5 separate regions of the Homo sapiens genome follow, and regions 1, 3, 4 and 5 are each reported to be linked to region 2. Evidence: microRNA targets listed by miRTarBase, many of them from high-throughput screens and not tested one by one. Region 2 holds a microRNA gene; each other region holds the end of a gene's coding sequence. Distances are between the middles of the regions.
What was found. Region 2 holds the annotated microRNA hsa-miR-4676-3p (CACUGUUUCACCACUGGCUCUU, at 1,352-1,373, opposite strand). A microRNA usually pairs through its seed, bases 2 to 8, with sites in the 3' UTR of a target mRNA and lowers its output. Matches are read on the target gene's strand: a 7mer-m8 pairs with bases 2 to 8, a 7mer-A1 pairs with bases 2 to 7 and ends in A, and an 8mer does both.

Region 1: miRTarBase lists EIPR1 as a target of hsa-miR-4676-3p. Seed matches in the 3' UTR shown: 7mer-m8 at 1,806-1,812.
Region 3: the mRNA of MAP3K1 is a reported target of hsa-miR-4676-3p. Seed matches in the 3' UTR shown: 8mer at 3,699-3,706.
Region 4: the mRNA of BEND6 is a reported target of hsa-miR-4676-3p. The part of its 3' UTR that is shown has no 7-base or 8-base seed match.
Region 5: the mRNA of GFRA1 is a reported target of hsa-miR-4676-3p. Seed matches in the 3' UTR shown: 7mer-m8 at 3,495-3,501, 7mer-m8 at 3,000-3,006 and 8mer at 831-838.

Annotation. Positions count from the first base shown.
Region 1 is chr2:3,184,495-3,191,081 of GRCh38, reverse strand. EIPR1 (EARP complex and GARP complex interacting protein 1) reads left to right here. Exons shown (of 9, transcript NM_003310.5): 9 at 1,574-2,112. The coding sequence ends at 1,748. LOC107985840 (a long non-coding RNA gene) reads left to right here and starts at 3,714. Exons shown (of 4, transcript XR_001739257.1): 1 at 3,714-4,678; 2 at 4,904-5,059.
Region 2 is chr10:72,718,445-72,722,444 of GRCh38, reverse strand. It overlaps MIR4676 (microRNA 4676), which reads right to left and starts at 1,416; the gene lies at 1,345-1,416. The region is part of intron 1 of MCU (mitochondrial calcium uniporter); the gene reads right to left.
Region 3 is chr5:56,891,930-56,898,516 of GRCh38, reverse strand. It overlaps MAP3K1 (mitogen-activated protein kinase kinase kinase 1), which reads right to left. Exons shown (of 20, transcript NM_005921.2): 20 at 2,365-4,986. The coding sequence ends at 4,837. It overlaps LOC105378980 (a long non-coding RNA gene), which reads left to right. Exons shown (of 3, transcript XR_948347.4): 2 at 221-267; 3 at 1,937-2,080. Among named protein-coding and RNA genes, the nearest start is that of SETD9, 14 kb to the left of the region's middle.
Region 4 is chr6:57,016,525-57,023,111 of GRCh38, forward strand. It overlaps BEND6 (BEN domain containing 6), which reads left to right. Exons shown (of 7, transcript NM_152731.3): 5 at 683-875; 6 at 1,897-2,033. The coding sequence ends at 2,024. Among named protein-coding and RNA genes, the nearest start is that of KIAA1586, 27 kb to the right of the region's middle.
Region 5 is chr10:116,060,792-116,064,791 of GRCh38, forward strand. GFRA1 (GDNF family receptor alpha 1) reads right to left here. Exons shown (of 11, transcript NM_005264.8): 11 at 1-3,753. The coding sequence ends at 3,607. Among named protein-coding and RNA genes, the nearest start is that of SNORD158, 130 kb to the right of the region's middle.

The sequences.
Region 1 (6,587 bases), not on the chromosome of region 2:
AAAAAAGTCACCCAAGCTGGTGTGCAGTGGCACGATCATGGCTCACTGCAGCCTTGACCTCCTGGGCTCAGGTGATCCTCTCACCTCAGCCTCTCAAGTAGCTGAGACAACAGGCCCATGGCACCATGTCTGGCTAACTTTTTGTAGAGACAGAGTTTTGCCATGTTGCCCAAGCTGGTCTCAAACTCCTGAGCTCAAGTGATCTGCCCACTTCAGCCTCCCAAAGTGCTAGGATTACAGGCATGAGCCAGACTCTGTTGTTTTTCTGTTCAAACCTTAGAAACTCGGTCTGCCATAGAATAGTATTTAAGCACACGCACGGTAGCATCTGCCCAGTGGTCTCTCGGTGCCTGTGGGCCTGGCTCCCTTTACCGTCCTCTCTGCCAGTGGCCCAGGGAGTCTGCACTTCCTCACCATGTCTGTCCCTGTTAGGGGAGGAGCCTGATGGGCCCGTTGGTCGGAAGACTGCTGGCGTTGTCTTCTGGGCGGCAATGTCATGGGAGCAAGATAGGAAGGGAGGAGGTGATCGGGGCTACGCAGACTTCTTAGGACATCCCTCAGTCCTGATGTCCTGCTGCATTCAGGAAACCATGATTCCTCCTAAGGATTTGCACCTGGCATTTGTCCCACAACAGCAGTTGACCACTGGCAGGTCCACTTTGTGGGAAGCCAGCTTCCCAGAGACCATGCGAGTTCTGGAGGGTCCGTCTTGCTGGGGGGGTGAAGCATTTTCCTACAAAGAAATGCAAAAGCAGTTAGAATGCGGTACACAAATTATGTGGGAATTTTTTTGTGAAATGGGAAGTAAAGTGCCAGAGAAGCCTGTGTCCACCGGAAAGTGGCCGCTGTGAGCCGGGCAGGGCCCCCTCCCCATGCACGCTGTGCTGAGGAAGTGGTGCTTCTTGTGTGAGGATCCCCTGGTCAGGGCTCCCAGTGAGGGTAACTCACAGTCAAGGGAGGCGAGGTGGGAAACACCCTGGGGGAGGCCAGGCAGGTCACGCCTCTGCTGCTCCCACAGGGCCAGGGCGTCTTCCTCTTGGTGTCCTGGGGGATCCTCAGCCCAGCCCCACTCCCATCCTAGCAAGGCTCCTTGTGCCCCAGCCTCTGACTCCTACACAGCCAGGAGCTGGACCCGCTGCTTCCCAGGGTCCTTTCTGCTCAAGCAATAGGGGCGTTTACATCCTGTGTTACCCAGACACGGTGACTACTTCCCCCAGTCTTTCCCCTGAGCTAAAGGAAGCCCTTGGAAGACCTCCAACAAAATATCAACCCAGGCACCCGGGGGCCAAGGACAGAAGAAACCAAGACACCATGTGCCAATGTCGCCGATTTCCATAAACCTTTTGAGAAATGCCCACTCCTCACAGTGACAGTGAGGGTTTCTGGGCTTCTGCAGGGACCACCCCACCGTCCTCGGTGTGGGCTCCTCTAATTCTTCCCATCCCACAGCGGAGAAAGCTGAGGCCCCAGTACCTCCCGTGTCTCCCGATGTCAGCGCTCGCGTCCTCCCTGCCCCTCTCCTGCCCGCCCCGCCGGAGCTGCTGCGCTCACGTCTGCCTCTGTTGCATTGCAGGAGCAAGGAGCCCCTGCAGGACAACGTGATCGCCACCTACGAGGAGCACGAGGACAGCGTCTATGCCGTGGACTGGTCCTCGGCTGACCCGTGGCTGTTTGCCTCCCTGAGCTATGACGGGAGGCTCGTGATCAACAGGGTGCCCAGGGCCCTGAAGTACCACATCCTGCTATGACTCCCGGGCCTGGGTTATCCAGGTCCCATTGAGTGGTTTTCCTCTTGGCAGATTCTCAAACAGTCGCAGCTCTTTGGAGGTGACTCGTGTTCCAGGTGGATCCCTCTCTGGGAGAGCCGCTGTTCCCTTCCTGTAGCAGCAGCATTTATGAATGGGGTGAATGGGGCTATTGTCGACGGCACAGCTAATGCCCGAACCCAGCCCCTGTCGGCAGAGACAGAGCCCCACATTATTATGTGAATAACAATGTTTTCTGTTTTAAGGGTGTCAGGAGTTTCGCTTTTTAAAAAAATGTCTGTTCCTGCAATAGTAACTCTTCTTTCTCTTGAGAGTAAAAAATGAAATAAAATAAATCCACGCTGCACAGGTGCTCGGCTCATTCTTTCAGGAGCTCTGCCCTGTGACCCCATCTCCTGGGTCTTTGTCCATTTTCTCTTTCCTGACCCAGGGAAAATGCAGATGGACAGACGTGTGCTGTCTACGCCGCCCTAGCATGGAACTCCCGGGAGCCATGCTGGCTGCTGGTGGGCACCTGGCTCGCGCCCTGGGCTGAGCTGGTGTGATGCATTTTCACTGCTGTAGACGCAGGCTCTGCCCGCCCTGGGCCTCCCCTGGTCTCTGCAGCCCATCCTGTGCTGTGTCCTGCCCACCTTGTGAGCCGGGCAGGGCCTCCTCCCCACGCGCACGCACTGGTGGCCTTGGAGGTGCCGTCCTCCCTCACCTCGGAGCTTGGGGTTGGGCTCCCGCGTCTCAGTTGTCGGGGACCCCTCACAGGCTCCTACACTCATCAGTGCTTATCCTTAGGAATCCTCAAACACTGACCTCGCAGCCTCTGTTCGTGGTTCCTTTGGGTGTGCGGGGTCTGTTCTCTGTGTCTGGTGCGTGTTCCCACTGGAGAAGCCACCTGGGCCCTGGACTCTGGGCTCCATCTCCCTTAGGCCTCCACCTGGCCAGGTGTCCCCGCAGGGGCCACTTCTGCGCTCTGCTGCCCCGATCACCTCATCTGTAATGATGGGGAAGGATGGGCTGAGCTCACAGGCCCATCAGCTCTGGGGTTTGACGATTCTAGGACAAGTCTTGCCCGACCTGCAAAAAGGACACGTTCCTGCTGCAGCGCCCCCGCCAGTAGGTGTACCGTGCTGCTAAGGACGCTCTGCACCCAGAGGGCCGCATCCTGGATTTTCCTTTCATAGATGAGAGTTCACAGCGAAGTGGAGGCCATAGGGGGAGAGGTGAAAAGGTGGGGTCCTGGGCGAGGGGACAAGTATGGGGGGGTCCACAGGTGGGGGCTGTAGGGAGGGGTGCACAGCTGGGTGGGGCTGTTGGGAGAGGCAAGCAGGTGAGTGGGGAGTGGGGAGGGGAACGCAGGTCGGGGGGCCGTGGGAAGAGGCACGCTGGTTGGGGGGCCGTGGGGAGGGGTGCACAGGTGGGTGAGGAGTGGGGAGGGGAATGCAGGTGGGTGGGGCTGTGGGGAGGGGCACGCTGGTTGGGGGGCCGTGGGGAGGGGTGCATAGGTGGGTGAGGAGTGGGGAGGGGAATGCAGGTGGGTGGGGCTGTGGGGAGGGGCACGCTGGTGGGGAGGCCGTGGGGAGGGGTGCGCAGGTGGGGAGTCAGGAGGGGCGTGCAGGTGGGGGGGCCATGGGGAGAGGCATGCTGGTTGGGGGGCCATGGGGAGGGGTGCACAGGTGGATGAGGAGTGGGGAGGGGAATGCAGGTGGGTGGGGCCGTGGGGAGAGGCACGCTGGTGGGGAGGCCATGGGGAGGGGCACGCTGGTGGGTGGGGAGTGGGGAGGGGCGCACTGGTGGGTGGGGGGTGGGGAGTGGGGAGGGGCACACAGGTGGGTGGGACCGTGGGGAGGGGCGTGCTGGTGGGGGGGGCATGGGGAGGGGCAAGCTGGTACGGGGGGCCTTGGGGAGGGGTGTGCTGGTGGGGAGTGGGGGTGGACAGAGACAGGTGTGTTGCAGACCCTCCAGCATTTCTGCTTCCAGGTAAAACCTGCACGTGTGAGGAATGTGTGGCATTGTAATGTCAGTCCTCCCTTCAGTTGCTGTCACTTGAAAGAAAATGTGTTTGTTTAACAAACATAAATTGAGTGCCTACTGTGTACCCACACTTCTAGATCCTGCTGTTGCTGCAGCCACAGCTGTGATTAGGGCAAGTCTCAGCTCCCCTGGAGTGAGTGCTCCTGTGGGCCATCAGGTGACATGGGGACAGATGCCACAGGGGAGTGTAGAGGAGGGGCCAGGGAGCGCTGTGGGAGCGAGGCTCTCTGAGAAGGCGATGCGTGAGCCAAGGCCCAGGGTTGGGGTGGGGTGGCACCTGGGTGAGTGGATCAGGTAGGGAGGCAGCTGGGCTGGCATGGGAATGAGGCAGGAGGCCCAGCCATGGGGAACTGGAGGTCCTGCCTTTTTGAGACGGAAGCCACTGAACAGGTGAGGACTGAAGTTTAGAGTTTGGATGGTTTACTGCCTTTGATTGGCACACAGCCGCCAGTGTGTGTGCGTTGTGTGTGTGCAATGGTGAGGCCACTGTGCACCCGGTGGCTGGCTTCTCATGAGTTTAACACACACTCACCACACCAGTCAGCCCTCACGTCTTTACCCTGGATCCTTTTCGAGAAAGGATCTGGAAAGTAAACATTTTAGACTTTGAGGGCCACAGTCACTGTCCATGTTCCTCTCTGTGGTTGTCCTGCCAGACACACACCATGAGTTTACAAAGACAGGCGGTGGATGGATGTGGCCTGGGGCCTGTTTGCCAATGCCAGCCCCAGAAAATAAAACTTATGTTTGCATAAATACCTATACACAGATATTTCTACCCAGGCATAATCACCAAGTGCTGGAAGCAACACAAGCGTCCTTCAATGGTGAACGGATGGCAGGGCCCCCAGAAGACCACAGGAAAGTCGTGTAGAGAAGACGTTCAGGTGAGCTCTGGGACGAGGAATCTTCAGAGGAGGCGAAGATTCCTCTGAATCCTCCTTCAGAGGAGGCGAAGATTCCTCTGAATCCTCCTTCAGAGGAGGCGAAGATTCCTCTGAATCCTCCTTCAGAGGAGTCTGGGGGTGGGAGGGCACAGGGCATGGGGTATCCAGGAGCCAAGCAAAGTGTTGGTTTCCGGGAGAAGGACTGAGGCACCCTCAATGCTGCAGATGGGGCGTCAGATGTGGGGGAGAACGAGCTGGAGATGGACACGGACATGGAGGTGTGGATGGCCCTGGGGAGGCCCCCTGGCAGCTGGTGGATGGCAGGAGCGGCGTGGACAGCAGGAGCAGCATGAACTGCAGGAGCGGCACGGGATAAGAGAGGTAGGAAGCTGGGAGCGGGAGGGGCTGTGTAAAGGAAACAACAGGAGGAGTAGCCCCCCAGGGCCTGTGACCACAAGGAGCTTTCTATTTCTTTCTTTTTTTTTTTTTTTATTGAGACGGAGTTTTGCTCTGTCGCCCAGGCTGGAGTGCAGTGGCGCAATTTTGGCTCACTGCAACCTCCGCCTCCCAGGTTCAAGCAATTCTCCTGCCTCAGCCTCCAGAGTAGCTGGGATTACAGGCATGCGCCACCACACCGGGCTAATTTTTGTAGAGATGGGGTTTCACCTTGTTGGCCAGGCTGGTCTCAAACTCCTGACCTCAGGTGATCTGCCCACCTCAGCCTCCCAAAAGTGCTGGGATTACAGACGTGAGCCACCGCGCCCGGCTGAGGATCTCTCTCTTTAAGAAGGAGAAATATCTGTGTTTCTGAATGCGGATAGACTAGTCCAGTGGAGAAGCACAGAGGGGGGAGAAGGGATATCCTGGAATAGGAAGGCGAGGGTGTGATCTGGTGAGCAACTCCAGATGAACAGGGTGAGAGGTTCCGTTAGAGAAAGCGAGTGTGCCCCAGGACAGCACCACGTGGGACCCAATGCCATCATCAGTGCGGCCATCGTCAGTGTGGCCATCGCCAGTGCGGCCATTGCCAGTGCGGCCATCATCAGTGTGGCCACGGTTTGGGCGTCATCAACAGTACTTCTATTTGTAAAATGCACACACATTCAAACACAGGACATAGTTTTATCTTAAGGACCCCTTGTAAACAGAGCAAGCATCCCCCTTCTGAGGATTTTGAAACAGGCTAGGGGCACCTTGCCCGGCTCTGTCCACCGACCGGGGCATAGGCCATGTCCCCTTCATGCAAGTCTCTCAGGCTCTGCCTCCAGCAATTCTTACCCATAGGCAGCCCAGTGACCTCTAGGTGACTGGTTGGACAGCTGGAACAGTTAGGATGCAGCCATGCAGAGACTTTGGGGTTCATCACCAGCATCCTTTGTTGCCCATGCCATTTTCAGAGCTAAGCCTGCATCCCTGTGCGTGGGGTGGTGGAGGGGCTGCACTGGACACCCCTGCGCGTGGGATGGTGGAGGGGCTGCACTGGACACCCCTGCGCGTGGTGTGGTGGAGGGGCTGCACTGGACACCCCTGCGCGTGGGGTGGTGGAGGGGCTGCACTGGACACCCCTGCGCGTGGGGTGGTGGAGGGGCTGCACTGGACACCCCTGCGCGTGGGGTGGTGGAGGGGCTGCACTGGACACCCCTGCGCGTGGGGTGGTGGAGGGGCTGCACTGGACACCCCTGCGCGTGGGGTGGTGGAGGGGCTGCACTGGACACCCCTGCGCGTGGGGTGGTGGAGGGGCTGCACTGGACACCCCTGCGCGTGGGGTGGTGGAGGGGCTGTGCTGGACAAGCCTCCTGTATAGATGGGGTTCTTCCCTCCTTTACACAGAAGCTGTGTTGAAGGTGATGGGATTACATGTGGACCTTCTTTACCAGGACCTGGGGGGCTGGGAATATGGGGAAAGAAG
Region 2 (4,000 bases):
TCAAGCGGGAGGTTAAAGTTCCTTAATAAAACAGAAAAGAAAAAGAAACAGCTGAGGTTAAGGGGAAAAGGTGGCATCTAGTTCATAAGAAGTCATGTACCTTTTTTTTTTTTTTTTTTTTTTTTTTTGAGATGGAGTTTCACTCTTGTTGCCCAGGCTGGAGTGCAAAGGTGCAATCTCCGCTCACTGCAATCTCTGCCTCCCGGGTTCAAGTGATTCTCCTGCCTCAGCCTCCCAAGTAGCTGGGATTTAAGTGCCCACAGCTTTTTCTAATTATAATAAACAGTATGTTATACTAATCTACACGTTAATATTTATACCAAGAATTCCCTATAAACCCAATTTATCTTCAAATAAAGTGTATAAATTCCATTGTTTCATAACTTAGCACAGATCTTCAAACCCACAATGATGTTACTGTGAGAACAATATACTATCAAATGTACACTTAACCATAAATATTGTTGCATTCCCCATAAGGAGCCTAAGTGGATAGTAATTCAAGTTGCAATTACCAATAAGAGGCCCAAACTGATTTGTTTATATGTATCACAGATATTTTCGTTTCAAACAAAATGAAATGCTTCTTTTTAAGTCTCAACAGCAAATATAACCATTATGCCCACCCACAGATGACATTGCCTAGAAATAGCAGTAATGCATCACTACAGCAAGGCACTAGATGACTACAAAAACACTGTAGTGTATATTAAAATCATCTCAGAACAACCAATAAAATAAAATTTTCATGCAAGGAGATCATGGAAGACCTTACTGAGAATATAATATTTCAGCAGAGACTCAAGAGGGAAAAGAAATAAGAAAACCTGTATATATTCAGGAGAAAAGCATTCTAATGATAGAAAACTGCAGTGCAAAAATCCTATGAGGTAGGTGCATGTTCAGCATGTTTGAGGAATAGCAAGGAGGTCAGTATCACAAAATGGAGTGGGCAAGAGGGAAAGTGGCAGCAGATGGGAGTCAGACGGGGAGCCAAATGTTCAACAGTGATGTGCTGAAGCCGATATTGACTGGGGAGCAGATTGCTGTACATTCTAGAACTTTGAATCAGCCAGAGTGGGAGTAATTATACCAGTAAAACAGGCAAATGCTACAAATCAGAACCTTTTCCCCCTCCAGAGAGCCAGTTTATTGTCACTACCTGTAGGCCCCTTGAAGAACTTTGTCTTTTACTGAGTGAGATCAGAAGCTACTGAATAAGTCTCCTTCTGCCTGATGTCATCATTCCCACTGCTGAATTACGACCAGAGGTAAGAAAGAACAAAAGCAGGGAGACTAATTAGAAAGCTGTTAATATAATCTAGGTGAGATACATTGTTAGCATGAACCAAAGAGCCAGTGGTGAAACAGTGAGAAGTAATCAACTCACTGTCTCACCACTGGCTCTTTCATTCAGGCTCTGGATATAAAGAACTATTCTTACTTGGATCAGTATGTAGCAACAATTACTAAGCTTCCTGTCTAGAAATCAGTATCTAACTCTAACCTAAACATGTCATTCCTGGTTCTGAATTAAGACTGTTAGTTGGATGTATAAAGTACTTCAAGAAGCTCAAATAACCAGGAGTCTTAGATGCACGTTACATATCTTCAGCTATTAAGGGTTCTATTATCATTTCAATTGATCAACATATACATTTGTTGAACATCTATTATAAGACACTGCAGAGAATACAAGTAAAATCTGTAATCCAAGCCCTTTCCTCAAGGAGGTTACAATCTGAAGTTTAAACTAAAGCATCCGTATATAAAAAGATAGATTCAACACAATGGAAGTATAAAATGTGTGGCAGGGCTAAGGAGTATTCTATAAATTGGAAAGGAGAAGGAAGAAGTCACTGAACAGATAGGACTTGAGCTGTGCCTTGAAGGATGGATAGAGTGAGATGATGAGAAAGGAACAAACGGAACAAGTCAGGGCCTAATAGTCAGTGGATCTGCAAAGTGAAAGGGCTAAGAAAAAGGTGGGAATGCACTTGGTGATTAAGGAGTAATCTATTCATGGCATTCAGGAGCATGGGGAGACAGAGGTTACAACTGGGAAGTATGCAGACATATACCTGAATTCCTAATTCCATCACTTACTAGCTTGAGCAAGTTACATAGAACCTTCCTGTCTTTATTTCTTCAGCAGTAGAAATTATAGTACCTACTTTATAGGACTGGTGCACAGAATAAATGAAATAAAATCATGTATGTATGGCATGTCACACAACCTGAAAGTTAGTAAGCAGTCACTGGTTATCAGAAACATTATTGGCCAGGCACAGTGACTCATGCCTGTAATCCCAGGCCATAGTGGAAGGATTGCTTGAGGCTAGGAGTGCAAGACCAGCTGGGCAACCTAGTGAGACCTTGTCTCTCCAAAAAAAAAAATTTAATTAGATGGGCGTAGTATTTTGCACCTGTAATCAGTCCCAGTTACTCAGGAGGCTGAAGTGGGAGGGTCACTTGAGGCCAGGAGCTCAAGACCAGCCTGTGCCACACGGCAAGACTCCCATCTCAATCAATCAACTAATCAATCAATAAAAATGATTGGGAAGTGGCAATGGTTAATGGGCACAAAATAATTAAAAGAATGAATAAGACCTAGAATTGTATAGCACAACAGGGTGACTATAGCCAATAATAATTTAATTGTATATTTTAAAATAACTAAGAGAATATAATTGTATGTTTGTAATATAAAGGATAAATGCCTGAGGTGATTTATCCTCAAGTCACTGGAAAAACCAAAAGTGACAATAAGAAAAATCACAAAAAGAGCTCTGTTTGGGAAGAAAATTCTACATTCTGGTTATGTTAAGTGATACCTTAAAGCCAAAAGAACATGTAAAATACACACACAACCAAGACTACAGCTCACTTGCTGATGTAACAATCAGTGGGAAGGAACACATACCAGCACTCGTAAACACATGAATATTCCAAATGCACAACTATTTGACCGATCATTCTTTACTGTACTAAAAGAATACCTGAACGTTTTGACTTGGTGAATCAAAACAGACCAAAAGGAAAAGATGTCCTTCTTTGGGGCATCTCAAAAACCTGGTTACAATAACAACAGATTATTAACATCAGCTACTTTATTCTTCTTATAATACAAATAAGACTAAGACTGTAACAGCTCCAGTAACATAATGGTACCTTGATAATCCTATAATTCTGACAGCATATATTCTAAGATAAAAGGTTCATTTGCTCAACTGGTTCTCTACATATCCTTTAAATGTTAACAGTGAAATGCTGTGTGTTTTCCAGAATTGCTAATACTTTTAATACTTTTTGTATATACTTTCTGAATAACATGTAAATGAAAAAGTATAAACTTGATAATTTTTTCACAAAATGAACCCACCCATGTAACCAATGCCTAAACCAAGAGACAGAACATTACTAGCACCCCAGGAGCCCCCTTCATACCCTCTGTCAAACACTTTCCCCAAACCCCCAACAAAGGTGATCAGTCTCCTGACTTCTGACACTATTGATTAGTTTTACCTGCTTTTGAATTCATATAAATGGAATCATACACTGTTAGTGTCTGGCTTCTTTTGTTCATCATATTATTTGTGAGAACCATGCATTTTTATATGTAGTTGTAACCTGTTCATTCTGATCACTGTTCAATACTCATTATGTGGTTATGTCACAAATTATATACTTATTCTACTGTTGATGGGCACTTGGAAAATTCCAGTTTGGACTATCAGTCCTGCCATGAACATTTTTGTCCAGGTCTTTTGGTGAATATAGATAGACACATAATTCTGTTTTGTATAAACCTAGAAATGGAACTCCTGAGTCATAGGGCATGCATGTGTTCAACTTTTGTAAATAACTAATGAACTTTTAAGGAATAAATATTTTTAAATCTTCATAGGGAAATATGAATGATTAATAGATTCATCAGAAGGTATGGACTCCAAAACTACTTTCAGCGGGAAAAAACTTATTGACGTAGGATAGTTGATCC
Region 3 (6,587 bases), not on the chromosome of region 2:
CATGGTAACTATGACCTCCCTTGTACATGAACTTGACGCAAACTCTTAGGTCCGCCACAAGCCTTGCTGGGGATCTAGTCCCATGGGTGGTTTGAGTCTGTGACCTTTGGGTCATTCATTCATAAAAACACATCTTGTGCATTCACTACATGCCAGATACTATTCTAGGCCATTTATATAGGCTCTCACTTCTCACGACACTGTCACTTTCATTTTATAGATGCAGAAATGGAGGTTCAGAAAGTCAAAATGGGGGTCACGTAGCAGGTAAGTGGCAGAACCAGATTTAACCCAGGTTGTATCTCAGGTCCTGTAGTCACTGCATCCGTCGTTACCTACTTTAAGAGGCCCGTCCTTTCCTTTTTAATCACAGCTCAACCTGGCATTTATGCTTATAGTATAATTTAAAACGGCCAAACCACGTCATGACATAGAAAGACAGCAATTTGTATAAGTTTCCATTAGTCAGTTTTCCCTCACTGTAGTTATTTCATGCATTGTTTTATAACAAATGACTTACATCAGCTCATAAATGCAATCATTGGCATTTCTATGAGCACAATACCCCAACATTTTTCTGGATTCTGACATGAAGACTGTCACCCATTTTATAAAATTATTAATATCATTTAAATAGAATTAAGGAGCAATAGAATTGGTTCTATTACTTCATCTGGAAAAAAAACTTTTCTCCAACTTAATATTTTTAAGTGACAGAAATGTACCCTTTTGCAAAAAATACCCAAAACCTATTTAAAAGACTTACATTTAAAATCAAATTATACTTTGGGAGGCCGAGGCAGGTGGTTCACCTGAGGTCAGGAATTCGAGACCAGCCTGGCCAACATGGTGAAACCTTGTCTCTACTAAAAATACAAGAATTAGACAGGCATGGTGGTGTCCACCTGTAATCCCAGCTACTCGGGAGGCTGAGGCAGGAGCATCCTTTGAACCTGGGAGGCAGAGCCTTTAGTGAGCTGAGATTGTGCCACTGCACTTCAACGTGGACAACAGAGTGAGACTGTCTCAAAAAAAAAAAAAAAAAAAAAAACAAAAAAAACAACAAATCAAATTATACAGAAACTTGAAACCAATGTAGAGAAACAAAATGGCTTCTGAACTCAGCAACATTAACCATTTTGCATGGAGATCGGTTACATGGGGGAGGGACATGAGGAAGAATTAAGCAAGTAAGTCAATATGTTGGGAATAATCAGTCATGATTCTCACTGCCTGAGAAGAAAGTTACAAATTTGGAAAAAGGGAAAGCTTGAATGAACCCTGTTGGTGTTGGATTGCAGTTGGAAGGTTGGTGTGAGCTCATGGTTTTTATGTATGTAGGTAGGTATATGTATGCGTACTTTGCAAGTGTGCACCGAACTGTGCATATTCATAAATACATTCTAGCTCTACCAAGACAGCCAAGGAGTGGTGACATCCAGTAGAATTGAGCCTATCTAGCACCCAGATGTTGGTTTTAAACATACCATTCTCTATCAAAGGAATCAGGGCTCTTTGGGAAAATGGCTGATTCCAGGGCCAAAGGAGACATTGCGTAAGATGGGGCTGAAAGTATGGAAGTGTTCAAAGAATAATGGTGGCTTGCCAAGGATAGAGAAGCTAGCTCTCAGACATTCCCACTGGGCAAATCCGCAACAAGTTGAGCAAATATATGATGATACATGATAAATAAATGGGAGAAGGGAAAGCTCTTCTTTGCAGCAAAATGTTGCAAAGAAAAAGTGAAGGAACTACATCACCATTTGGCAACCATCAGAGTAATATATTCAGGCAAAAAAGCTAAGAGCAGAGTTAAAACTGGGCAAGAAACATCATATTTATGTAGTCTCTAATATCACCCCCAAAGAATACTTCCAATTATAAAGGTGGATTTTAATTATAAAAGGAAAGACTAACTATACAGTGTTACTATCAGTTATCACCAGTGATGGGGCAAACGACCTCTATGCCTCCTGACATGACACACCGAGAGGAGCACAGCATCACCTCTGTGATGTTCCTGCCAAAAGTGCATACTCTGAATCTAATCAAGAAGCAGCACCAGACAAACTCAATTTGAAGAGCTTCTATAAAACAATAATCTGAAATCTTTAAAAAATTAAGGCCATTAAGGTCAAGGAAGAACTAAGGAATGGCCCTGGATTCAATGAGACTGAAGAAACATGACAACTGAGAGCAACATGTGATCCTGGTTTGGATCCTCTTGCTATAAAGGACATAAATGGGCAGCTGGTGAAACCTGACTGGGGTCTTTGGGTGAAGGGTATACAGAAGTTCTCTGTGGTATTCTTGCAACTTTTATATAAGTATGAAATTATTTCAAAATAAATAAAAGTAACAACATTTGTTCAAAAACTTTTATTTACTATAAAGACAAAAACACCAAAATAGGTACAAATACTATAAAATCGGTTCAATGGGGTAAAAATTTTAATTAAAATATCTCAATATATTTAAAATAACAAAGGATACATTTAAGCCAAATTTTCTTAACCCAGAGATTTTTTTTTTTTTTTTTTGTAACATTTGCTTACACAGTAAGGTGCTAATAGAAGTTAGCCCTTAAGCCCTGGAAATCTTAGGAATCATAGTCACACAGCAAATATAATTTCATTGTGAAAGTGAACTTTGGTAGAAGAAAAATCTATAGGACACCTGAGGTAGTAGAAACTGGAATAAACAGTAGTAGACGTTATTTACAACTTGAGTACCAAATAACATTAAGAACACAAAAATAATTACACGATACAATTTCCAGTCCAGCTTTGATCCAAAGAAAATAAGAATATTACATCACATTTGCATTGAAAACAAAACAAAAAACAAAACACCACAATTACCAGCAAGCTGAGGGAACTGCAAACAAACTCAAACACAATGGATTTTGAAATCTACAGATAGTTTGAGTTTGAAATGTGGTGGGCATGGTGATCTACAAAGTAATACTGATTAGCTGAGGTTCCTCAGTTTATACAGTTTACATTTTTGTCAGACACAGTATTCATCTGACCAATGATCTTCCAGTACATAAAATGGCAAGAGTGCATCCTTTAAAGCTTGCACATGAGAGACTTGGAAACAATCTTATTAGAATTGTGAAAATTCTAAGTAGTCAAAAAAAAAAAAAAACAAAATAAAAAAGAAAGTCAAGTACAACACATTTAGAGATACCAAACTTCACATTTCTGTACTATTTTTAACTCTTCAAATATCGCCAATCTTCCAAAACAAAGGAATGTAAAATTTCACTAAGAAACATATTCACATAAAAAACAAACTGCCTTTTAAAAATTGTAAGCAATATATCCCTGTAAACTTATCTTGTAACTTATTTTATTTCCAATTTGTGTTGTACATTTTAAATGTACTCTATATATAGCTTATTTAGTTTATCCTGAGTCTTTGAGAATAACCAATTCTATTTCACACTGGCTTCTGAAGAGTTAAAACTAAAATCTCAAAGTTGTACTTAATAGTTAATCAGTACTTGATTTAAAAGACTCACACACACACAAAAAGATTAAAAAGCTACCATTTTCCTTCAGGATTCCATGCATCTGAATTTAACTCCAGACTAAAACCGTTAGGTAACTGTGCAAAATCCAAGGAATTAGTGTATAAATGAAATTCAATTCCATTTTTCTTTCTGAACACATTTTCCAAGTTCAAAGCAAATGTACTGTTTAAAAACATTACTGATTGGTAGTTGAATAATCTTTTTAAAAAATGATCTGCCAGGCCTACTGTAAAGAGATGATGCATGGTAAAAGGAAAATGGCAGCTCTATGTTACTACCAGTAGTGAAGGTGAATGATGGATTGTTACATACAGAGTAAGACTTAAATGTTGTGAAGTTTCCTACAGTTTGACAACCAAAACATCTAAAAAATTCAAATAAATTTTAAGGTAATCTTGATCTTGGTTGTGAGTTGCACCAGAGAGGACAGTTTATTTTTAGTTAACTTGTACTTAACCTGCACAATAAGAGTGGTGACTGACTCAAATGTAGGTAGTACTTTATTGTATTCCAATTTAAAAAAACAAAATTAAGTCTATATTTTAAAAACTCTGACAATAGCAAGATATTTAATGAACTCTACTTCATATCTAGTTCATTTTTTTTTTCTGGTTTGAAAAAAAGATCAGCTTTCCCTGAATAAACAAAAATGAATGTAAATAAACATGAAAATACAAAACCATAATTTCCAAAAACGAAATGAATGGGCCAACAGTAAAATGCACAATGAGCCACAACTGCCCTGGTATTTAAGAAAATAAAGGTCAACTGTGGGTCATAAAGAAGTATCAACTTTTAAAAATATATGTATGTATTGCTACTCATAGCATACTCTGACCTAAAAGAGGCAGATACTGATTTTATAGCCAGTGACAAAAAATTTGAACGGAATTGCAGAACCCCCTGCTTGTGATCACTATATGAAATGGAAGAATAATTGAAATATTAAAATAGATCCTGAGCCCCTCAGCCGCTAATATTGCTGAAAAAGTGCTCCAAAAAAATAAAATTATGCTTCTGCAATTTAGTCATGCAAACTTCATTGTTTTCCTGTTCACCTAGGGCCAGTTCTTTGAAAGGCACAGTTTACAGTTTCTGCACTAGTTTGGGCTTTTGCATACTGAGCTTAGGTACAGATCATGATTTGTCAATCACATACTTAGGTAAGGGTTCCCCACTGGCCTCGTTCATAGCTGTTCAGTGGCATCATGGCCAGTAGAATATCAATGTGGTTCCCCACAAGTTTTTTTTCTCTTGTTGAGCATCCTGTTTCTACTGTAGTTGATCTGCATAATTGGCTACCATGTAGTACGAAAGACTGGATGCTTCAGTAGCTCTCTTGATGGAGGTCTGTCCTGAGGTTGAAGTTCTAAACAACGAAGAGCCACATCTCGTAAACCAGGAGACAAATGTGAAGGGATCGATGGAGCAGTAGTTGCACTAGCAATCTGTGGAGAAAAAGCCAGTGTTGAAGCTTTGCACAACTGTAACTTCTGATACAGAAACACATGTGCATAGACCTCATAACCCTTACATTTACATCCTGAACAGAGAGGAACTGAAGCAGAAGTGGGAGGATTTTCTGCTATCAAAAAGTCTATGAAAAAATTCATCCACTGGATGGGAGGTTTTCTCTAACAATCTTTCAAATTTTAGGATTTTAGGATTTGATCAAATATATCCTATTCCTTATTATTTACATCAACAAGGCTAAGTACATCAAAATGTTCAGGTAGATAAAGTATTCACTCAAATGAATTCTGCTGTCCTCATATTCAATCTCCGAGATGGTTTGTTCTTACTGCACGTTTTCTATTTCTTCAGCATACAGAGCTATTTAGATTAAGAAAGACTAAAACTGAAGAGTCAATTTAATACATAGAAAACACAACTGCATTGTTTTTTTCCTTCCGTGTTGGACAAATTCTGATTCTTAGTATCAAATACACTATGAAGAATAACTTTTTTATAAACAAATTGTAAGTCTGAATACTTTTTTTTTAAAAAAAAAGAAATTTTATTTGGTCTTATTTGTAGTTTTTCTAAAAAAATTCAAAATCTGATAATTATTTTTAAATTGTGATACACTCTTTACATTCTAAAATTTGTGCTGCAATAACCATATTTTAATTTCAAGTCATATATAAAAAAAAGTATTAGTTTTCTAACAATTTTTGAGCACCCATTATGAATCAGAGCTGACTCCAGGCAGAGATAGTGTCTTTCTTGCATATCTCCCTATTTGTGGTATCAATTTTCTTCTTCTTGAAATGCATTCCTAAAAATAATTTTTTTCAGTGAGTGTCTGCTGAAGGTAAACTTCCACAATTCTCATGTGTCTGAAAATATCTCTATTTCATTCTTATTTTTTGATGATCATTTAGCTAGCTATGAAATCCTAGGTTAACTGTTATTTTATTTCAATCACTAGAAGGTACAATTTGTCTTTTGAATTCTCTTGTTGCTGCTGTATTCTGTTATCCATATAATTGTTATCAATTTTTTTTCTTGTAATTTGTCTTTTCTCTTTGGTTCCTTCTTGTCTTTAGCATTCTTCAGTTTCATTAAGCTGATAAGCAACTTCAGCAAAGTCTCAGGATACAAAATCAATGTGCAAAAATCACAAGCATTCTTATACACCAATAACAGACAAACAGCCAAATCATGAGTGAACTCCCATTCACAATTGCTTCAAAGAGAATAAAATACCTAGGAATCCAACTTACAAGGGATGTGAAGGACCTCTTCAAGAACTACAAACCAGTGCTCAATGAAATAAAAGAGGACACAAACAAATGGAAGAACATTCCATGCTCATGGATAGGAAGAATCGATATCGTGAAAATGGCCATACTGCCCAAGGTAATTCATAGATTCAATGCCGTCCCCATCAAGCTACCAATGACTTTCTTCACAGAATTGGAAAAAACTACTTAAGTTCATATGGAACCAAAAAAGAGCCCACATTGCCAAGTCAATCCTAAGCCAAAAGAACAAAGCTGGAGGCATCATGCTACCTGACTTCAAACTATACTACAAGGCTACAGTA
Region 4 (6,587 bases), not on the chromosome of region 2:
CCCATTTTCTTGCTGGTTGTAAACTGAAGGCCATTCCTACTTCTAGAAGCAATCACATTCCTTGGTTCACAGCCCACTTCGGCCATCTTCAAAGCCAGCAACAGCAAGTGAAGTCCCTCTCACACTTCAGATCTTCCCTCCCTCTTCTGTCTCTTTTTCCTGATCTGCCCTTCTGCTTCCTTCTTCTGCTTTTAAGAACTCATGTGATTAAATTGGGCCCACCTAGGTAATCCAGGATAATCTCCCATCTCAAGGTACTTAACTTTAATCACATCTACAGAATTGTTTTTGCCCTGTGAGGCAACGTGTTATAGGTTTCAGGGATTAGGATGTGACCTTTCAGAGGGCCATTATTCTGCCTACTACATTTACGATGAAGCACTGAGTATGGGACTAAGCCTGAAAGGACCAAATCCAGTTTACATGACAAGAATTTGTATACACCCTATAACAAATACCTCATAAATATTGAAGAGTATCACAAAGATAACATTTAAATCTAATCCCTGACATGTAAAATATATATTAAATTAAAATGTAAAATATATATTAAAATATATATATAATATCTTACCTTAAAAAATGTTGACATTGTTTTCTTTTATGCCTTAACTCAATTAGTAACATATTTCTCCATACAGCACTTTCTTTTTCCAACTTCAACTCTTTCTTATCTTTTTAGTTCCAGATTGAAAAATGGCAGATTGCCCGTTGTAACAAGAGCAAGCCTCAGAAGTTTATTAATGATTTAATGCAAGTACTTTACACAAATGAATACATGGCCACTCACAGCCTGACAGGGGCAAAATCCTCTACTTCAAGGGACAAAGCTGTAAAACCAGCTATGAATCAGAATGAAGTCCAAGAAATCATAGGTGATAATATGATTGCGTTATATTGTCGTATGAATTTTAAATCATGTTACCACTCAAGGTCAAGATAGTCTTTCATGGTCCTTTTATTTTTTAAAGTTTATTTTTCTGGGAAAGAAAAATCTTAGGATAGTCTAAAGCTCTCATTAAATATGGGAAATTTTATAGAAAAACTTTACATTAACAATGGTTATTAAAATGAAACTAAGTTTTATATCACCAAAAGGTTTCAATTCATACAATTTATAGCTTTGGAAATGTAAATTTTCACAATCTTTTAAAGTAAAATTTCAATAACAATTTCTTCCTTGCTTTTGTTATATGTCTTATCTTTCATTCCAGAAAGATAAAGGCTAATTTGACCATCCTATTTATGGTTTTTAAATTAATGAATCTCCTTAAATATAATCTAGATTATCCAATTAATTTTTTGGCAACATCTGACAAATGTAAGGATTCTCTGAATCCTAGCTCTATATATGTCATTTCTTAACATACAACAATGTCTGTCTTCCTGAAACAAAAAACTGCTACTTCTAACAACTGCAATGAAATTCTTTCCCTTGGCTCACACATGCTGTTAGACTGACTTTAAAAGTTAGAGAACATGGCTGGGCGTGGTGGCTCATGCCTGTAATCCCAATGGTTTGGGAGGCTGAGGCAGACAGATACAGAAAAAGATCAGTCAGAGTTTAGTTGTTTCAATTAATGTTGGAAATGGATAAAAATACATTCCTAACATTTTAGAGCAAGAGGACTTAGAGTTTAAAGCAAGTAGGAGGATTAAAGTTAATCACTACCATAGGATCTCAGTTGATAATATAGACCTTCTGATATCTCTTGCTTTACTTAGAAAAACCTGCCTATATATTCATCTGTTTAAATAGCTCATGGGTGTTTGGGCTACTTTTGTAAAATGGAAAAAAAATTATAATGTAGAATACTTGATGTTTTACCTCAGTTCATACCCTAAGATGCAAAGCACTCATGAAGTTTCTCATGTGTCGCTATTGGTTTTTTACAGGAGTAACAAAACAATTATTTCCCAATACGGATGATGTTTCAATTAGGAGAATGATAGGGCAAAAGCTAAACAACTGTACCAAGAAGCCAAATTTAAGCAAAAATCTTAACTCTCAGGATATTAAATAGATCCTTTTGGTAAGTCTTTTAAATCTTCAGTCCTTTCAATGTGGCAAGAAAATGTCATAATACTTTTATTTTATTGGAATAGCATTTTCCAATCACTCTACTAGAAAATACTAGTGACCCATGAAAAGCTAATAGGTATTCCTGGTGGCAAAAGGGGAGAACTGGGAGTGGGGTTTGAATTGGAAAATGCTGGGTTCAGTTTTTCTTCCTCAGAACCTCTCAGATATTTTGATGCCCTTTTAACATGCTCATGTGCACCAGAAATCTCTAAGAAAGGGATATAGTATGTAGTGTTTTCCAAATGTGTTTTACTGAGGAAATTTTTTCACAGAATCCTGTTAACTTGGTGGGGATAGAAAGGAGCCAAAGGAAGGACACATGACAATTTAAGAAGTATTTCTCTCTAGGACAGAGGAGATTTAGACCCTTGGGAAATCTGAAGTACATCGATGAGACTGAACTTACAGCTAGCTCTAACAGTGGTCTGACAGTTGTGCAAACTATTGGCTGAAGTGTGCAGCGTTCTTCTCCACCATCCTACATGTTGCTTCGCATGGTCTTTAAATTTTTAAATTAGTTGTTATTGTTTAATAAGGATTTTTACCAAGATGCATGTCCTATACTAAGAAAAAGAATAATTTTTTAGTGAGAGTTCTAAAGTAAATAGACTTTCTAGTCAAGCCTTGACCCAGGCAAAACTGTGAAGTGGAATTTTGCCACCCACTATCCTGGCTAGCTCACTTTTACTTACCCCTCCTCTCTCTCAACTATTTTGATGGAAAATACGTGAAACCATGTGTATGACGTGTTAAAATTTTCATTGATTAATAGAGGCATGTGGGTAACACATGAGGGTAAGGCCCACCACAGATATTCCTTTTTTCTTTCCATTTTCCTTCCACTTCTATCTTTGACTTGTACTTTGCCTGTCTTCTGCCTAATACCAGCCACTTTCGAGACCATTTTACTTGACTTCATTTCTTCTGACCATGTTTTAAATGAGATGTGGAGCTGAATGTAATGCAGTAATCCCCTGCCCCAAACGCCCTACATGTTACTGACTACCACTCCCATCCTCCCCCAAGAGTCCCTTATCTATTTTGCTACACAACTAAGACCAGCTCTGCCGAGAGTCAACAATGTCTGTCTTCCTGAAACAAAAACATAAACAAATCAAAAAACTATTACTTGTAACAACTGCAGTGAAATTCTTTCCCTTGGCTCACACATACTGTTAGACTGACTTTAAAAGTTAGAGAACATGGCTGGGCATGGTGGCTCACGCCTGTAGTCCCAATGGTTTGGGAGGCTGAGACAGACAGATACTTGAGCCCAGGAGTTCGAGACCAGCCTGGCCAACATGGCAAGACCCCATCTTTATAAAATACGGAAGAAAAAAAATTAGCCCAGCGTGGTAGTGCACACCTGTAGTCCCAGTAACCCAGGAGCCTGAGGTGGGAGGATAGCGAGGTGGAGGCTACAGTGAGCTGTGATGTTGCCAGTGCACTCCAGCCTGGGGGACAGAGTGAGACCTTGTTTCCAAAAAAAGAAGTTATAAAAGATAAGGTTACCTGTATCTTTTTTCTCCAAGTGATTATAAATTTCAGTAGATTGTGACCTCACAACTTTTCAATTATTAGATAATTGCTTAAATATGCCCTTAGTACTTCCTATTTTGACATGAGGTTACCCACCCAGTTACCTTGATGTATAATGACCAAGTTCTCTATTTTTTTTTTTTTTTTTGAAACAGTGTTCTCACTTTGTTGCCCAGGCTGGTTTTGAACTCATGAGCTCAAGCAATCCTTCCACCTTGAACTCCTCAAATGTCAGAAAGCACTCCACCCAGTAACTAAGTTCCTTGTCTTTTCTTTTTTATTTTTCATTTTTGAAACGGAGTCTTGCTTTGTAGCCCAGGCTGTAGTTCAGTGGCGCGATCTCTGCTCACTACAACCTCCACCTCCTGGGTTCAAGCAATCCTCCCGCCTCAGCCTCCCGAGCAGCTGGGACTACAGGCCCGCGCCACCACACACAGCTAATTTGTGTATTTTTAGTAGAGACGGGGGTTTCACCATGTTGGCCAGGCTGGTCTCGAACTCCTGACTTCAAGTGATCTGCCCACCTCGGCCTCCCAAAGTGCTGGGATTACAGGCGTGAGCCACCGTGACCGGCAATTTCCTTTTCTAAATGGTATGTTACCAGACCTCCAAGTCAAGTGGCTATCTTTTGGGGCACACTGTTATATTTCAGAGGTCTGTAAAGCATTTTGATATCCTAAACTCTTGTTTTTTTTTTTTTTTTTTTTTAATATTTCTGACTTCCAAGGATAGGCACAAAACTCATCTCTGACTATATCAGCCAGCAGAATGTTAAAGAAGTGAAAGTTAAGAGATTTTTATATCAGTTTTGCTTGTACTTAACAATAGAAGTGTTATTAAATCTGCTAGCTATGGCATTAATTAAAATTGAAACAAGGAACAGACATTTTGCTATGAACTTTGTGCCTTTTGAACCTGAGCCTGACTTAATAGTGCCAAGTTGTTTAGACTGGAAATGCATGTATTTTGAATCAGTAATGGAGATTAGCTAGAATGGAATTTTTTAAATTTGCAAATATCTTTCATTTTAAGTATGGTTGAATTCAAATTATTGCAAAAAGGACTGAGGAAAATATGCTGGAAAAGACAGGGTCAGGTAAGACCTAATTTGGACATGCTTGATAAATTAATCAGATATAGCACCATCTAGTGGAATACTGTTATATTTTTCTGTTCTCAGTCATTTAACTCACAGGAGCCTATGGCCCTGCCCTGCCACCAAAAATATTCTTTGAAAAACTTACTTTTCTAGCATGGTCCCTGTGGTAGACCGTGCCCTCCACTCAGTCCTGAGCTCAGGTTGTCACTGGTGGCTTAGATTTAAAAGGGTAACAATTTCCCAGCTATGGCTCAGGTCTGTGAGGGTAAGGCCTAAATTCCTCCCTTTTTTTAATATATTCTTTCTTATTCCTGTGGCTGCCCTAAAGTTGCCTGTAGCTCTCACATGCAAGAGCTTGATTTTTTTCCAGCCTGTCTCCATTTTTTACTTCTTTCTTGCAGGCATTGAAGAAAAATGTATTTATAAGATTTACAGAATATTAGGCTATCACCTCTATAACATCCAACTAAGTGACCAAACTGCCTTCTCCTGAAATTTCCAAAGCGGCCTCAGGGTATATAATCTCTGGCGTAATGTTACATAACATATATTATAACTTATAGGTGATCTAATACAGTGGTGCTAAAATGGTGGGGGGCGGCGGAGAGGGAGGTGTGATTTAGCCACCTTCCTCCAACGCAGGGTATTTAGGAATGCCTGGAGATATTTTTGATTGTCAAAACTGGTGGTACTTCTGGCATCCGGTGGTCAGAGGCCAGGGATGCTGCTAAACATCGTTGTTGAATTTGGTTTGCTAGTATTTTGTTGAAGATTTTTGTATCTGGCTCATCAGTGATGCTGGCCTGTAGTTTTGTTTTTTTGTTGTGCCCTTCTCTGGTTTTGGTGTCATGGAAATACTACTTTGTAGAATGAGTTTGGAAGTATTCCCTCCTCTTCAATTTTTCTTTTTTTCTTTTTCTTTTTTTTTTTTTTTTTTGAAGAATTAGAGCAGAACTGGTATTACTGTCTCTTCAAATGTTTGTAGATTCAGGGGTAAAGCCATCAGGTACTGGGCTTTTCTTTGATGGAAGACTTTTTATTATAATTTTGATCTTGTTACTCCCTATTGATTTGTTGAAGTTTTCTATTTCTTCATGGTTCAATCTTGCTAGGTTGTATGTGTCCAGGAATTTAACCATTTCTTCTAGGTTTTCCAATTTGTTGGCAAAGAGTTTTTCATAATACTCTCTAATGAGTCTTTGTATTTGTGTGGTCTCGGTTATTATGTATCCTTTTCCATGTCTCATTTTATTTATTTGGCCTTCTCTTTGTTATTTCTTAGTCTGGCTAATGGTTTGCTGATTTTCTTTGTCTTCTAAAAACACCAGTTTTTTCTTTCATTGATCTGGTTTTTTAAATCTCCTTTTTTGTTTGTTTGTTTTTTGTTTTTTGGCTCTGATCTTTATTATCTCTTTCCTTCTACTAGGTTTAGGCTCCGTTTGTTCCTGCTTTTCTAGTTCTTTGAGGTACACCATTAGGTTGTTTATTTGAAGTCTTTCTACTTTTTTGATATAGGTGTTTATTGCTACAAACTTCCATCTCAGTACTGCTTCTGCTGTATAGTATAGATTTGGGAATGTTGTATCTCCATTTACATTTGTTTCAAGAAATTTTATACTTTTTTTCTTAATTACTTCATTGGTCATTCACGAGCTTGTTATTTAATTTCCATGTGTTTGTGCATTTTCTGAGACCCTCAGGTTATCAGTTTCTAGTGTCATTCCATGGTGGTCATAAAAAATACTTGATATGATTTCTACTGTTTTGAATTTATTGAGACTTGTTTTGTGGCCTAGATATAGCCTATTCTGGAGAACGTGCCATGTGTTAATGAAAACAATGTGTATTTTATAACAGTTGGGTGAA
Region 5 (4,000 bases), 43 Mb from region 2:
TGATTCAAGTACATCGTGCATGTCTAACTAACTGCATGAATGAAAACTTATTTTCCAAAAGACAGCTCCTCTGAGGCCACAATTTTGTAAATAATAACAACAGAAATACATTTCCGCTGAATTCTGAGAAAAGAATTCGCTAATTATATAAACTCCCACTGCTCTTACATCTCTTTTCCCAGGCACTTTACATGGACTCCAAAATGCTTTGGCTCTCCCACTCTCCTAGTATAGCAGATGGAGTGCTTGGGAGTGTCTGATTTAGAGACAAGAAGGCAAGAGGGAGACGGGCGGCAGCTAGAAGCGGCCCATCCTCAGAGTGTATGCAAGACAGGAAGTGTCTGAATATGGACCAAATCAAAGGCTGAGGCAGCTCTGGGGGAGCCCTGTCCGGTGTTTGAGGAACTCGAAGACACAACTTCTAAGACATTCTTACTACAGCACAAAAGTCTGTTAAAAAAAAAAAAAAAGAAATGGAAACCACACTCCTATCACATTCTAGATCGTTTGCTATACTTCATGAAAAATAACCTATGTTAATCTCAACTTATACTTTTTTTATTACAGACTTGAAAAAAATCAGGTATGGAAAAATAAATATGTAATTGGCATTCTCAATTCCTTCTCTATATTGTGTGCTTCTTCCTTCATGTGCTCTATTAAAAAGATACTCAAGCATGTATCGGTCAAAAATATTCAACATCAAAGTGGAATGAATGTGCTTCTAATCAGTGTGGCAATACTGCCTTTATTCCCCCTCTCTTTCTCTCTGAAATAAGTAGGGCATGGCTAGATGTAATCAGGGAGTCACGGTCTGCATGGACCCTAGTTACTGTTTGGTTTCATCAAAATCAACTGCAATGAGATACTTCCTGCAAGACACCCAAACCTCAGCAGATAACCCCTGTCTTCAGTGGCACCCCAAATGCCCGGACTGAAGGACAGGAAGTAGCGAATCATTTTTGCTTTTAAGCACGCCAAGAAGAAGTGAGACAGGTAAATGATTTAACTTATTGTGCTCCAGTTCTGGGGCAAATGATGGTGTTTTAGGGTCACCGTGTCAAACTAAGATCACACTGAATGGCGGAAACCTTGCTTGGCTTGCTTTGATAAGAATCTCTCTAACGTGTTGTCCCTGAACAAGATGCTTCCCCCTATTTATTTAATCAGCAACTGATTTTCAAATTGAGGAGCTGGTAACTTGAATATGCTTTTATCACTGAAGAAAAATGAGATATTTGTTGGTGACAGATGAGGCTTTTCAAAATGTAATTTATATATTGCCTACCCATGCATTCTTCAATGAAGGCTGCCCTTGTTAGCGCTGAAACTCCCATTTCCGCTTTGGTCATCTGATGCTAATTAGAGCTGCTGTTACTGCAGAAGTAATCAGTAGCTTTCTACAGTGGATCACATAGAATCAGATCCCTATGAAATTAGTCCAGTGTAGATACACAGAGATACCTTAATGAAAACAAAATACACTCTGTAAGAGATATGCGCTCATAGATAACTGGCATTCCAAATATTTTGACACACTTACTTAATGTGTTTATTCAAAGTAAGAGTCTTTATAGATCTTTTCACTAATTAAATACAGTTGGGTGTCTGCTGAATTTCCCTTGAAAACATTTTGAAGTGAAAAAAGTCAGTACTGAGTACTGTACATTTGTGTTGATTAACATTTGGACACAAATATACTTTTAACACCAATAGAGCTGAAAGACTATGCCTTTATCTTGGATTTCATAGATTTCCCCTTCCCCCCAGTGACTTATCTTACAAGGCAAACACCAGCAGGCAAAGGGGATCTGTAGAAATGTGCACCCTGGTTTCCTCCTCCATCTCTTCTACCAATGTGGGAAGAAAGCCAATGCTTCCCAGCACTTTCTGAAGGTGGAATCTCCTCCTCTTTACTTAATGTTGGAGAAAAGTGGCCACCAGTACTCGATCATTGTAGATTCGGAATCTCGCCATCTAAACCAGACTTCAAAAGTGCACTTTCGGGTCTACTTAGTTAAGAAAGAGAATAATGGAAGATGATAAGTGGTTAGCAAAGCCAGATGCCTTATCACCAGGGTCCTGTTCTGCTGATCTGTGCCAAGCAACTCATCTCACCAAACCTAATGTCAACCCTCTTGATCCACAAACCTTCCTTCTCTTCTAACATGGTCTGCAGTCTGTCACGGAGGACATGAAACAAGATGCAAGCAGATCCTTAATGACCTTCAGACCAAACTGCTCCAAACAGTGGCCAAGACGTTGCAGTCAGGAGTAAACACAATCCTTAGGAAAAGAACTGTGCATCCCAGCATGGATGTGTTTCCAAAGAAAGGAGAACCTGCCCATGCCTCCATGTCCCAATCAAAGCTGCCTTTGTCAGATAACCTGAAAACCAAGGTACTGGATTGTGTCATGACAAGTGTGTCAAGAGATGCTGCAGAACATTTACAAGCAGCCACCAGTTCCCTCCACAGGTATGCACGCTTGCACTTCGAGCAATGACAAAAGACAATGCTTGTCTGTTCTGTTTCCTCCTGCCTGTCCACAGTCACATGATGCAGAACTTTCTGCTACAGCACGAGGCTTCTCAGAGTCTGCTTTTGATGAGCTGTATTTGTGAAGTTCATATCAGAGCGAACACTACTTATGAGGGGAAAGAAGCTCTGTGTATTTTGTATTAAACCATCAGTAAAAAAATGAGACAATATCATTACTTTCAAAATATAGAAAGCCAATAGTTGAAATCATTTAGTAGTAAAATTTTTTTCTACATATAACCTCATATGTGTAAAGAGTATTAGAGCGACATTTCAGCTATATTGGACTTTTGTTAGGTAAAGGGCTTCTCACTCAGGTAAGGCTTAGGATTAGGAGAGTGTCGTTCAGGGATTGAGGTATTGAATCGGCACACTCATTCCCCACTCTCTATTTTGACGAAAAGACAGATACTATATTTGGATGTGACAGGTGTTTTTTCTTTTGTACAAGAGTGCAGAACTGTTTACAGTACATAAACATCAGCGTGGAAAATGCTAGTACATATATAAAGGTGAACATCAGTACCAGCTGTTTCCACAAAGCCCACTCTTGGTAAGAATCTTCTTTGTGGCAAAAAAGCTTGGCATCAATGTAGGCTGAAATTTATATCATTAGAAATCAATGTCATTAAAGGAGATATGGGAGTTACCTTAGAAATATTAACTCCTTCTCTAGCTAGGAAAGGCCAGAAGTAAAACTGTTAAAATCATCATCATGATCATGATGATCATCATCATGATCATGATGATCATCATCATGATCATCATCATCATCGAAAACACAGCCCCAGTTTGCTTTACAGCCCAAGTTACAAACTGTCCCTTTAAAATACAGCATATCCCAAAGCCTTCTGAGTTTGGATGGAGCACTGCATCAGGTTTTTCACAGAAGCCCCAAAGGATCACAAGAAGCTTTCTTAAAAGGAAAAAAAAAAAATGTTCCAGTTGAATGGAACTGTTTCTCAACTGAGCTCCTAAACTGGAATTTCAGCTATACAAGAGAACAGGAAACAGATAACTTGGTTTTTGTCTTTTTACATGTCCATATTGTATTTTTTTAATGCAGCTATGATGTTTCTGTTAAAGATAATAGGGTGGACAGAGCGGTTACCACCAGGACCAGCAGTGGGCTCAGACCACAGCTTGGAGGAGCAGCCATTGATTTTGTGGTTATGTGGCTGGAAGCACCGAGACCTTCTTTTTCATAATTACCCTGTAAGGAAGAATGGTTTCATTATCATCCACTGCATGTCTTCATTCTACCACAGTATACTTTACACTCTCTCTCCCCCCGACTCCCCACTGGCTGACCCACTCACCAAAGCTGACCAAGATTTTACCACTGAGACTTACATTCACTGACTTGTAGTTTTATGGGAAGAAACCATGAACCTGGGTTAGAACCAGATACTTTTGATAAAGCGTCTGGCCAATGCTTACTGCTTGCTCTTCCATTAGGA